2 separate regions of the Homo sapiens genome follow, and region 2 is linked to region 1. A link means that fine-mapping ties the variant in region 1 to the expression of a gene that starts in the linked region. Tissue or cell type: skeletal muscle. Region 1 holds a variant in brackets; the other region holds the start of a gene. All regions are shown on one strand. Distances are between the middles of the regions.

Region 1 (5,231 bases):
CTTGCTCTGTCATCCAGGCTGGAGAGCAGTGGCACGATCTCGGCTCACTGCAACCTCCGACTCCCAGGTTCAAGCGATTCTCCTGCCTCACCCTCCTGAATAGCTGAGATTACAGGTGCACGCCACCAAGCCCAGTTAATTTTTGTATTTTTAGTAGAGACGGGGTTTCACCATGTTGGCCAGAATGGTCTTGATATCCTGACCTTGTGATCCGCCTGCCTTGGCTTCCCAAAGTGCTGGGATTACAGGCGTGAGCCACTGTGCCTGGCCCACATTTTTTTTTCAAGTTTATTTTTTCATTATAAAAGTGTAGTAGTAAAGCATTAGAGATAATTTTAAAAACAAAAAAAGTTTACCTTAATCCTGTCATTTAACACACTTATTGTAAGTAGAGTTTTGAACATTTTTTTCTATTTTTTACACAAAGGTTTAAAAACATGTATTTTTTTTCTAATAATATAAAAATTGTACTGACAATATATTTAAATTAGATTGCACTGCTTGTGTGTCTGACCACTCAACCATTTGGCCTTTGTCACCTGTAAAACCTCAATAGATTTGTTTTTAATTTTAGATGCAGAAATTTAAAAGCTAAAACTTATCCACATTGCAGGATCAATACTGAGTTAGGAACCAGTTGGTCACAAATTTTCATGCAGATAGGGGAAACTGCTATAAAAACTCAGTCACATGAGATTGGAGAATTGGGTCATAATAAAGGAAATTTTAAGTTTTTACCAAATCTGGTTTAAGCATTCTGATCTGCAACAGTTTGAAATGCTTTCCTTTCATTTGATTTTTTTTTTTTTTTTTTGAGATGGAGTCTCGCTCTGTCACCCAGGCTGGAGTGCAGTGGTGCGACCTCGGCTCACTGCAAGCTCCGCCTCCCGTGTTCACACCATTCTCCTGTCTCAGCCTCCCAAGTAGCTGGGACTATGGGCACCCGCCACCACGCCTGGCTATTTTTTTGTATTTTTAGTAGAGATGGGGTTTCACCATGTTAGCCAGGATGGTCTCGATCTCCTGACCTCATGATCTGCCTGCCTCGGCGTCCCAAAGTGTTGGGATTACAGGCGTGAGCCACCGCGCCCAGCCTCATTTTATTCTTAATAGATATATCAAATACCATTAGATCATATATTATTTTAGAGGTAGTTTCATGCTACTATTTCTATTTTGCCCATTTTTTTTTGTTTTATTCTCCATGAGAATTATCTATGATTCTAACCCAGTATTTTACTGTTTTGAAATTGCTAAAAGTTTTTGGAGTCACTATGACTTTTTAAATCAGAGTTAGCTGAAGGGACTGAGGCTCTAGATAATCATTTCTTAAGTGAACACAGAAGGATGTGCCTGATAAGCTGGTTTTCATTGATGGTGGAGCAATCAGCAACTGAGAGAGTAGGTAGTCCACCTCTGTTCCCTTGCTATTTCTCTGTGTCAGAAATATAGCATGATCTTATGTTCTTACATGTTTTAGAAAAATGTACAGTCACAAATAATTTTTTAAGTTGATAAAATTGTCACTTTCCAATTTTACATATTTTCAACTTTAAATTAGCCACAGATTTCACTTACTTTTAATACATATATTTGATTTAATATTTAAAATAGTTATTGGCCAGGCACAGTGGCTCATGATCCTGTAATCCCAGCATTTTGGGAGGTCAAGGTAGGAGGATCACTTGAGCCCAAGAGTTCGAGACCAGCCTCAGCAACTTAGTGAGACCCATCTCTACCGAAAAAAAAAAAAAACCTGAGTGTGGTAGTGAGTGCCTGTAGTCCCAGCTTCTTGGGAGGCTGAGGTAGGAGGATTGCTTGAGCCCAGGAGTTTGAGGCTGCAGTGAGCCATGATTGCGCTACTGCATTCCAACCTGGGCAACAGAGCAAGACTGTGTCTCAAAAAAAAAGATATATTCTGAACATGAATAAATATACTAAGATTGTACATATTTTTAACAGCACTCGACTATGACATCAACATTGAGGAGATTGGGTGAAGACATTTTTAAAGGAGTGGTAACTAAAGGAATTCAGGATAATTCTCCACAGCATTCTGTGGAGAATAAACCAAAGACAGCTGCTTTCTTTAAGAGCTCCAATTTGCCATTGAGATTTTTATCAACCTTAATTGTTCTCAAAACAGTCACTCAAGGTAAGCTTTCAATTGTACTTATGGTTAATTTTGAGAAACAATAGAGAATATCATATATTAAAGCAATTCTTTTATCAAATATGTTGTACATTTTCAGAATGAGGTTTTGAATTGTTTTATAATGGTTACACATTATAAAAAGCTACTTTTATTTGCTGAATTTGAGAAATTGAAGTCTTTAGTTGGATTCTTGCCTCCTCCCAAGAGGCCTTTGATTGTCTTAGGTCAT[A/G]TTCCCATAACAACCTTTGCCTACATCTATTTGTATTTGTCACATCAAATTGAAATTGCTAGTTAATTATTTTCCACTAGCGAATGTGTTGGTAAACTAGTCCATGGGCAAAATCTGGCCTACCACCTGTTTTGTAAATGAAGTTTTCTCCCACAACCATGCTCATTTGTTGTATATTGTCTATGACTCTTTGCCCTACAGTGACAGAGTTGAGTAGTTGGCAGCAGAGACTGTATGGCCCCCCAAAGCCTATAATACTGTCATCTGGCCCTTTACAGAAAATGTTTTTCAGTGCTTGCACTAGCTTGTAAGTTTCCCAAAGAAAAAACTTGTTTATAATGACCCTGCACCTAGTGTAGTGCTTCATATATAATAGTGAATAAGGAAATGGATGAATTAGAAATCCTTCAAAGTTGGCCCTAATTAATATGTGTTTAATATTTAGCTATAACAGGTTATATTATTAAATGTGATAATTTTTGTTAAAGTGAGTTATGCCAGTGTAGTCAGGCAATAAATATACCATCTTTCTGTCTTCCCTGTTTGTTAAATTTTTTGTTAAGCTCAGATTGTTGTTTTTATTAATGGGCAATGACAGTCATTTAATTTGACTTCTTTCTTTGAAGTATGTTTCATTTAGTTACTCCCGATGGTATGGAATTGATGAAAAAGTAAAAAACCATATAACTGCCTTCTTAATTATTTTGCCTCCTTATGGTTATGGTTCTCAAGATTACAATAGACTAGGTGGTTAGTGTGTGAAAGGTCACTTACGAGAAGCAGGGATTAGCTCAAAATAAAGTTCGCCACAGACCTATCTCCAAATCTTAAAAAAAAATACACACACGCTTACATACCCACAGGTAAATGGATTCTAAATAAGAATTTTAGCTGACACATCATAGCCACACATTAAAGCATAGATTCACTAAAGATCAAATAATATTAGTATCAAGAATTTGAAGCCAATTTAATATAAGAAAAATTATTAATCATTTATCATTTAACTAAGATGTTTGAAATAATATGTCAACATACATTATATCATTTAATAACATGTAATGTTCATTTCTGATAATATGCTAAGAAAAGCAAAAATGCAATAAGGGATATTTATGTGAAATAGAAGGGAATTAGGTGCTCTCTGTCACCACTTGTGTGCAGCAGTTTTGGACATCTGTAATGAGCCATGAAAAAATGAAGTATGAATATTGGGAAGGAGTAGAGAAGACCGTTAATTTGTGGAGACTCTGTATTAATCGAGGGCTTTCAAAGAAATATAACAGGGCATAAGAATATGGATAAATAATGGATGGATGAATAGGTTGATGAAGATTATTGCTGAAGTTAAATGTCAGAAATAAAGAACTTTTATTCTTCCTGCCTATGAAGACGAAGTGTTTTAAAAATAAGATGTCCCATATGGCTTAATGTATAATACCAGTTAAAATTCTAATATAGTTTGCGTAAGTTGAGGAAGTGTTAGGGAAATTTATGTGGAAAAATTTGCAACAAATGCGATGATTTATAACAAGTAAAACAGCAACACTGGGGCAGAGGCTTAGCCAACTTTAAAACAATCCTAATATGTAATGATACAAAATGAGTAATAATTTATTTAATAAATCAAAATAGGACAAAGGGAATAGGAAGTCCAGAAATGAATCAAAATTGGCACTTCATATTATGTATTGAATTAATGACTTTGCTTCCCTGTGCAAGTCATTTTTTTAAGAACATAGAATCTTAAATCATATGATACAGATGATAGAATTAGTAGACAAGTCTTTACTGCAGTTATTATAACTATATCCCTGTGTTCAAGAAGGTAAAGGAAAACATGAGCCTGGTAAGGGGATACATGGAAGATACGGGATAAAAAGACTTCAATCAGATTTCTGCAAATGAAAAACCCAGTGCCTGAAATTTAAAAATACACTGGAGAGAATTAGACACTGCAGACAAACGACTAGTGAACTGGGATACATAGCAATAGAAACTGTCCAAAATGAATTACACAGAGAAAAAAAATCTACAAAAAAGAAAACAGAACATCAGTGAGTTTTGAGACAAAATCATATATTCTAATATTATGTACTTAGAGTCTATGAAGAGGGGAGACAAAAACTATTTCAAGACATAATGGCTCCAAATTTTTGAAATATGGTGAAAACTATAAACACACAAATCCAAGGAGCATGTCCAGCTGAGCTCATGGTCACTCCTATTCCCTTTTCCTTAGCCTCCTCTAGATACATGTGTGCCATCCCTTTCCTCCACACCCTGGCCACTGGATTTCAGGAATACTGCCTCCCATGGTGACTCTCCATGACCTTTTCAGTGGCTTCATCACCTCTCCCTAGACCACAGACAGGCCCTGACACGTCTCCCTGCCTTCACTCTCTAGTCTCCCTTCACACTTGTTGTGAACGATTCTTTCTCACAAGGTTCCTGCCTAACAGATACCCTTTAAAGCTGCAGGCTCCTCAGCCTGGTGGCCTCAAAAAAGAAAAAGAAAAAAAAATCTGACACTAATCACTGTGGAACAAGGAAGAGATACAAGAGTTCTCCCTTTCCTTATAGTCTGGCCTCTCCCAGCCTAGGCACAAGGGTTTCTTATGAGCCCAAACCTGTGGGGTTCCAGTGTTCATCTACTACCTGGGGCCAAGGTACATGCTGCTGCCATCAAGAAAGAAGCCTGAATGCTGATGAGTCTCAGGGAGAAGAGCACTTTCTGACTGCAGGTGTTCTCTCCAGTAGCTGCAGGCAGGTGGGGTGTGCCTGCACACAAGACCTGGGGCTAGGAGGGTTCAACAGGATGCATGGGCCAGTGAATACAAGTGTAAA
Region 2 (5,231 bases), 470 kb before region 1:
TAAAAAACGAAAGGCTCAGAAGAGATAAGTATTAGAAAAGTTACACAGCTATTAGGGGGCAGTTTAAATTCAAACCCATATATTTAGAATTCCAAAGCAATGCTTGTCAAATATAGACTTAGCACCAACTTTATTCTTATAATCACTAAATATATTTATTTAATTCTCCTAACCTCATGAGAAAGTACTATTGAGTAAAAACATTAAGTGAGAATAAGAGCAGTGTTTGTAGTCAAGATCACTTTTCAAATTATTTGGAACTTCCCATCTTCCCTGGATCTATTTTCAATCCCAGTCAGTCATCTTTGGGTCCAGAAGCATATCCTCCCCCATCTCCCAGCCCTCCCCCTCTAGCACACAACGCACTGGAGAAAACTGCTAAGGCATTGCTGAATATCTACCACTCTACTCTGATGGCACACAGGGCCAAAAAGATTATAGAATAAAATCTAACTGAAAAATTATAGGTGATTTTTATAAGTCTGTTTAAATGCATATGCATCCCAGGCATTCCACCTGGCAGTCTCTGTCTCAAGGGCCCATCCACCTCACCATGGTCTGGAGGGAGGGGATGAGGAATAGGGAAAGCCAAAGAATTGATCTTTTCTGAGTTTGCATCCAGAACATGGGCCACAGAGAAATGGTGAACAAAGTCACCCATTATTATTAACAGCTATGATTTATTCAACATTTCCCTGTTGCCAAGCATTAAATAAGCTGTTTTATCTCCCCACAACCATGAGGTAGATAATGTTAAGATCCCCAATTCAGACCTGAGGAAAAGCGTGATATGAAACAGAGAAAGATTCTGTAACCTGCCATTGCCCACAGCTACTGGGACTTGGCACAGGGTTCAAATACAGGCAGCCTGACTTCTCTCTGAAGGATGTCAAGCCACAGCCACCATACTCACCTAGTCCCCACATAATGATGGCCCAAGGAACTCGCTTCCTCAATTTTTGCTTAGTTTTACTCATTCATTCTTTCGAGAAATAGAAGAATGCCAGACACTAGGCATACAGCTATCAAACAGTGAGAAAACAACAGGCCCCATTTCATGTGCCTTAGAGTGTAGTGAAGGAGACAGAAAATGCCAACAAGTAAACACGCAAAAACTAACTGTCAATGGTTGCTCTAAAGGAACACAAAGTGCCATGAGCAAGGAAATAGGAGGGACCTACTTGAGATGACATAGAAAGTCAAAGAAGGCTTCTCCAGAAAGGGGGCATCAAAGCTGGGACACGAAGAAAGAGAATCAGACAGCCAGACACACAAGAGCCGACAAGATCTCCAGAAGGAGTGCTGCCATGGGGAGCAAGTGTGGCATGGCCCTGGGGTGCAGGCCAGGCCGGGGGCAGGGACTGAAGCAAGTTGTGAAATTTCTGATTATCAGGGGCAGAATGGATTCCTAAGGCAGCCACTGTCTTCTGTTAACTCTGGAGTTTTCTGCATCCCTTTTGCTTTAAATGAGGCATACATGTTTTCATAGCTGTGATGAAACCCCTACAATTCTCCAGTTTAGCATTATTTATTTTACTCTTAAAAAATAACAAAGCTGACCCTGGCAGATGTTTGTACTGGGAGATTCAGATCCATCCAGGCCCCCACTGTTAATAGCCCACGGGAAAGTCCCTGCAGTCTCTCAGGGAAGTCATTCTGTGTAGAATCTGTAATTTCACAGGCAAGTCCTGCAACTTTTTAATTGTTTAAAATTCCCAGAAGGAATAATTACTGAAATTATCTATGAAGGGTTTAATGGACACAGACATGAGAGCTATAAACAATGTGATACTATGTCCTGTTAACTCACAGAGAACGGAAGGGCTGGAACGGGACCCAGCCAGCAGGGTTTGTGACCGCCTCTGCTGTGACGTCACAGCCTGGTGAGGAGGGGGCTGCAGTTCCTCAGGAAACTGCCAGTGGACAAATTCATAAACAAGAGCTCCAGTTCCCTGGAACCTGAGTCGGGAGACCTGCAGCTCACTTTCTCCCTGTTTGCTGGCCAGCAGGGTTTGTGGCCGCCTCTGCTGTGACGCCACAGCCTGGTGAGGAGGGGGCTGCAGTTCCTCAGGAAACTGCCAGTGGACAAAGTCATAAACAAGAGTTCCAGTTCCCTGGAACCTGAGTCGGGAGGCCTGCAACTCACTTTCTCCCTGTTTGCTGGCCCAGACAGGCCTGTGCTAGAGGGCTGGATAGTGTGGTAGTGTGGTGGATAGAGTGCTGCCTCTATCCACAACGCAGCCATATGCTGACTGAAGATAACTTTGTGTCTGGAAGAGCCCTCTGATTTCTTACACTAATGGCCTTACACGACATGGAGGATTTTACATTTGATGGAACAAAGCGCTTAAGTGTCAACTACGTGAAGGGAATTCTTCAACCGACAGACACCTGTGACATCTGGGATAAGATCTGGAACTTCCAAGCCAAGCCTGATGACCTGCTTATTTCTACCTATCCTAAAGCAGGTAGGTGGAAGGGCTTGCAGGGGAAGGGGAAGAGGAGAGTTAGGAAGGTAAGTGGAAGTATGCATTAGTCATGAAATAAAGAAGTTGATCTGGAAAACTCTGGACAGAGTGATATGGCTAAGGAAAGTTACTAGTGGAAACTGAAGCTATACCGAAACATACTAAAATGACATACAAATTTTTAGAATTCAATCTTCCTATGATACTATGATGTACTTCCTTTTTTTTTTTTTTTCACTTTCCCAGGAGAGAGTGAAAACAGTTAAGAGCAAAAGGGTAGACTTGTTTATTTATTCATTCCCAATCTAGGCCCTTATTGTAGATCTTGTAAAAAGCTGCTTTGAGTGTGTGAGCTAGAAAGGTGATCCTGAGTCTGATTTGGGAAAGAAATAGGGGAGCTTTGGTTCTGCAATGCTGATATCACCTCAGCAGCCCTCCCATCTCAGGGTCTGAGAACCATCCTTCTGATTTCCACCTTCCTTTGTGGTAAGTTTTGAACCAACTGCCTTATCTCAACAATCAGTTTAACAAAGTTGTCTGTAAAAGTAGGACTAGCTTAAGCCGAGCCACCACGTCATAAAAATTGGGTGATGATGAGGTGGAAATAGTTCTCTATAAATATTTTTGCATATCTACATATCTACTAGAAATACATTACTGGGTCCACACACAAATTGTATATACATTTGCTCTTTGCAAAATCAAGCTGTCAAAAACTCTTGTTATACACACACAAACACACACACATCAAAAAATCTAAACCTCAGTATTTTCTGAGACTGTTCAAAATCCTCTTTTGTTCTTATCTCTCAAGATCCTGACAGAAGATTCTGCAGGCACATGGAGGCCTTGGTCTCTTCTTTGTCCATCTGTTTCATTTTGGTCCTGATTTCCCAATCTTACTCATCAGGAGCCCATTCAGGATCAAATTTTTCTGAATGTAAATTTCTAAAAGTAGCCACTGGTGAGGATCACATCTCATCATCTTAATTTCATTGACAATTCCACTTGATTATCAATTCAATACATAAATAATCTTTTCTCTATCTGCCAAACGCAAGTACAAAGATATGGTTCATTTAGGTTTTTCATGGCATTAATGAGGTTTAAGCAATTCAAAAAGCACACTAAGAAAATTAAATACTTGCCATCTAAAGTAATATTTAATCATAACTAAAACCATATACATTAATGAAGGCTATTTTATTAGAAGGAAGAAGAAACAAGCATAGATGGCAAAAATAGTTCACCCTAAATTTTTAAAAGAATAATACTCTGAATGACACAAGAAAAAAATACATCATAGAATCACTGGCCTCTAGAGAATAAATTGAGAAGTCATTCCACTCACCCCGGAGCCTCTAGCAACATTTGAATCTGCCCTCATGTTGGCTCATGTCTATAAATTCATTCAATTCATTCATTATAGACATTCAGTGTTATGGCTATAAATTCCCATAAAACTAGTACAAATGGCTGGACTATTCTTTGCATGGATAGCTAAAGATATCTTGGCCCTTTGTCCTGTAATAAAAGTTGCTGCCAGAAAATACAGGAGACCAACTACTATAAAATATAAAATGTAATTTAATTTTTTTCTAACCTATGCCCTTATTCTAGGCCTTTAAAAGCACTAAATTGAGAATATGGGAAAAGGAATCTATAGAGTTTCGGCCAGATAATACAGGAAAGATCAACCTAGATCAGGATTCAGAAAGCCATCCTGGCTAGGCATGGTGGCTCACACCTGTAATCCCATCACTTTGGGAGGCCAAGACAGGGGGATCTTTTGAGGCTAGAAGATTGAGACCAGCCTGGGCAACATAGGGAGACTCCTATGTACAAAAAAAAAATAAAAATTAGCCAGGCATGGTGGTGTGCACTCACAGTCCTAGCTATTTGGGAGGTTGAAGCAAGAGGACCATTGAGCCCAGGAGTTGGAGGCTGCACTGAGCTAGGATCCCACCACTGTACTCCAGCCTGGGCAACAGAGCAAGACCCTGTCTCTGGAAAAATAAAAAATAAAAAAAGCCATCCTAAAATAACTCAACATCCTCCTAACCTGGATTTTGCCAGAACATCTGGTGCAACAGATCTTCATCAAAGGGTGAAGATTATGTTGATAGCACAATATCACTGTATCAGTCAGGATCAGTGCAAGACACAGACAGACTGAAGCTGGGGGATACCATTCTACCTATGGCCACAGTGGCAGTGGTTGGGTCTAGGGCACTGGGCCATGGAACGTGGAATGGTCTCTGCAAAATTTCTATCTGCTGGGGCTACTATCAGCAGCCACCACCTCAGGAAGGATGACTTCTATCTCCCCACTGCCTTCCAAAACTCAGGCTAATGCATCTCACTGGAGGGATCTAAATAGCCTTCAGAATCTTAGTGGCAAAGGAGTTTAGGGAAGGCCTTTTACAGCCTTTCAGCCCATGAGATATGGGGGAAACAGAGAAAGGCGAAAAATTGAATACTAAGTGCTAATGGTCAATATCAAGTTCAAGCCCTAATGGTTCACTCATTCAGCCAACAAATACTAAGTGTCTCCTACGCTATGCAACTGGGAAAAAGAGAGTTTGAAAATCATGTAGTCATTTCTCTATAGCAGATCACAATTTGGGGAGAATGTCCTTTCTAAGGACAATACAGCTAAATAAATAGAACAATAATAACAATCCAAATTAATAGTTGTGACAGAAAAAAATAAATGTATATTTATCAGTCTAATGTCCATTCAAAATTGGAGTATTTTTTTAA

What was found. PIP is the estimated chance that this variant, and not a neighbour inherited with it, causes the effect.
Region 2: SULT1C4 starts here. The variant in region 1 is the best candidate, but not a certain one, in a credible set for the expression of SULT1C4 in skeletal muscle (GTEx, PIP 0.70).

The regions. Positions count from the first base shown.
Region 1 is chr2:108,844,776-108,850,006 of GRCh38, forward strand. It overlaps CCDC138 (coiled-coil domain containing 138), which reads left to right. Exons shown (of 15, transcript NM_144978.3): 12 at 1,963-2,155. It also overlaps a transcript of RANBP2 not described here. Among named protein-coding and RNA genes, the nearest start is that of CCDC138, 61 kb to the left of the region's middle. RefSeq lists a silencer at 1,254-1,454. The variant A/G (reference allele first, on the strand shown) is at 2,385.
Region 2 is chr2:108,376,039-108,381,269 of GRCh38, forward strand. It overlaps SULT1C4 (sulfotransferase family 1C member 4), which reads left to right and starts at 1,916. Exons shown (of 7, transcript NM_006588.4): 1 at 1,916-2,468. The coding sequence starts at 2,300.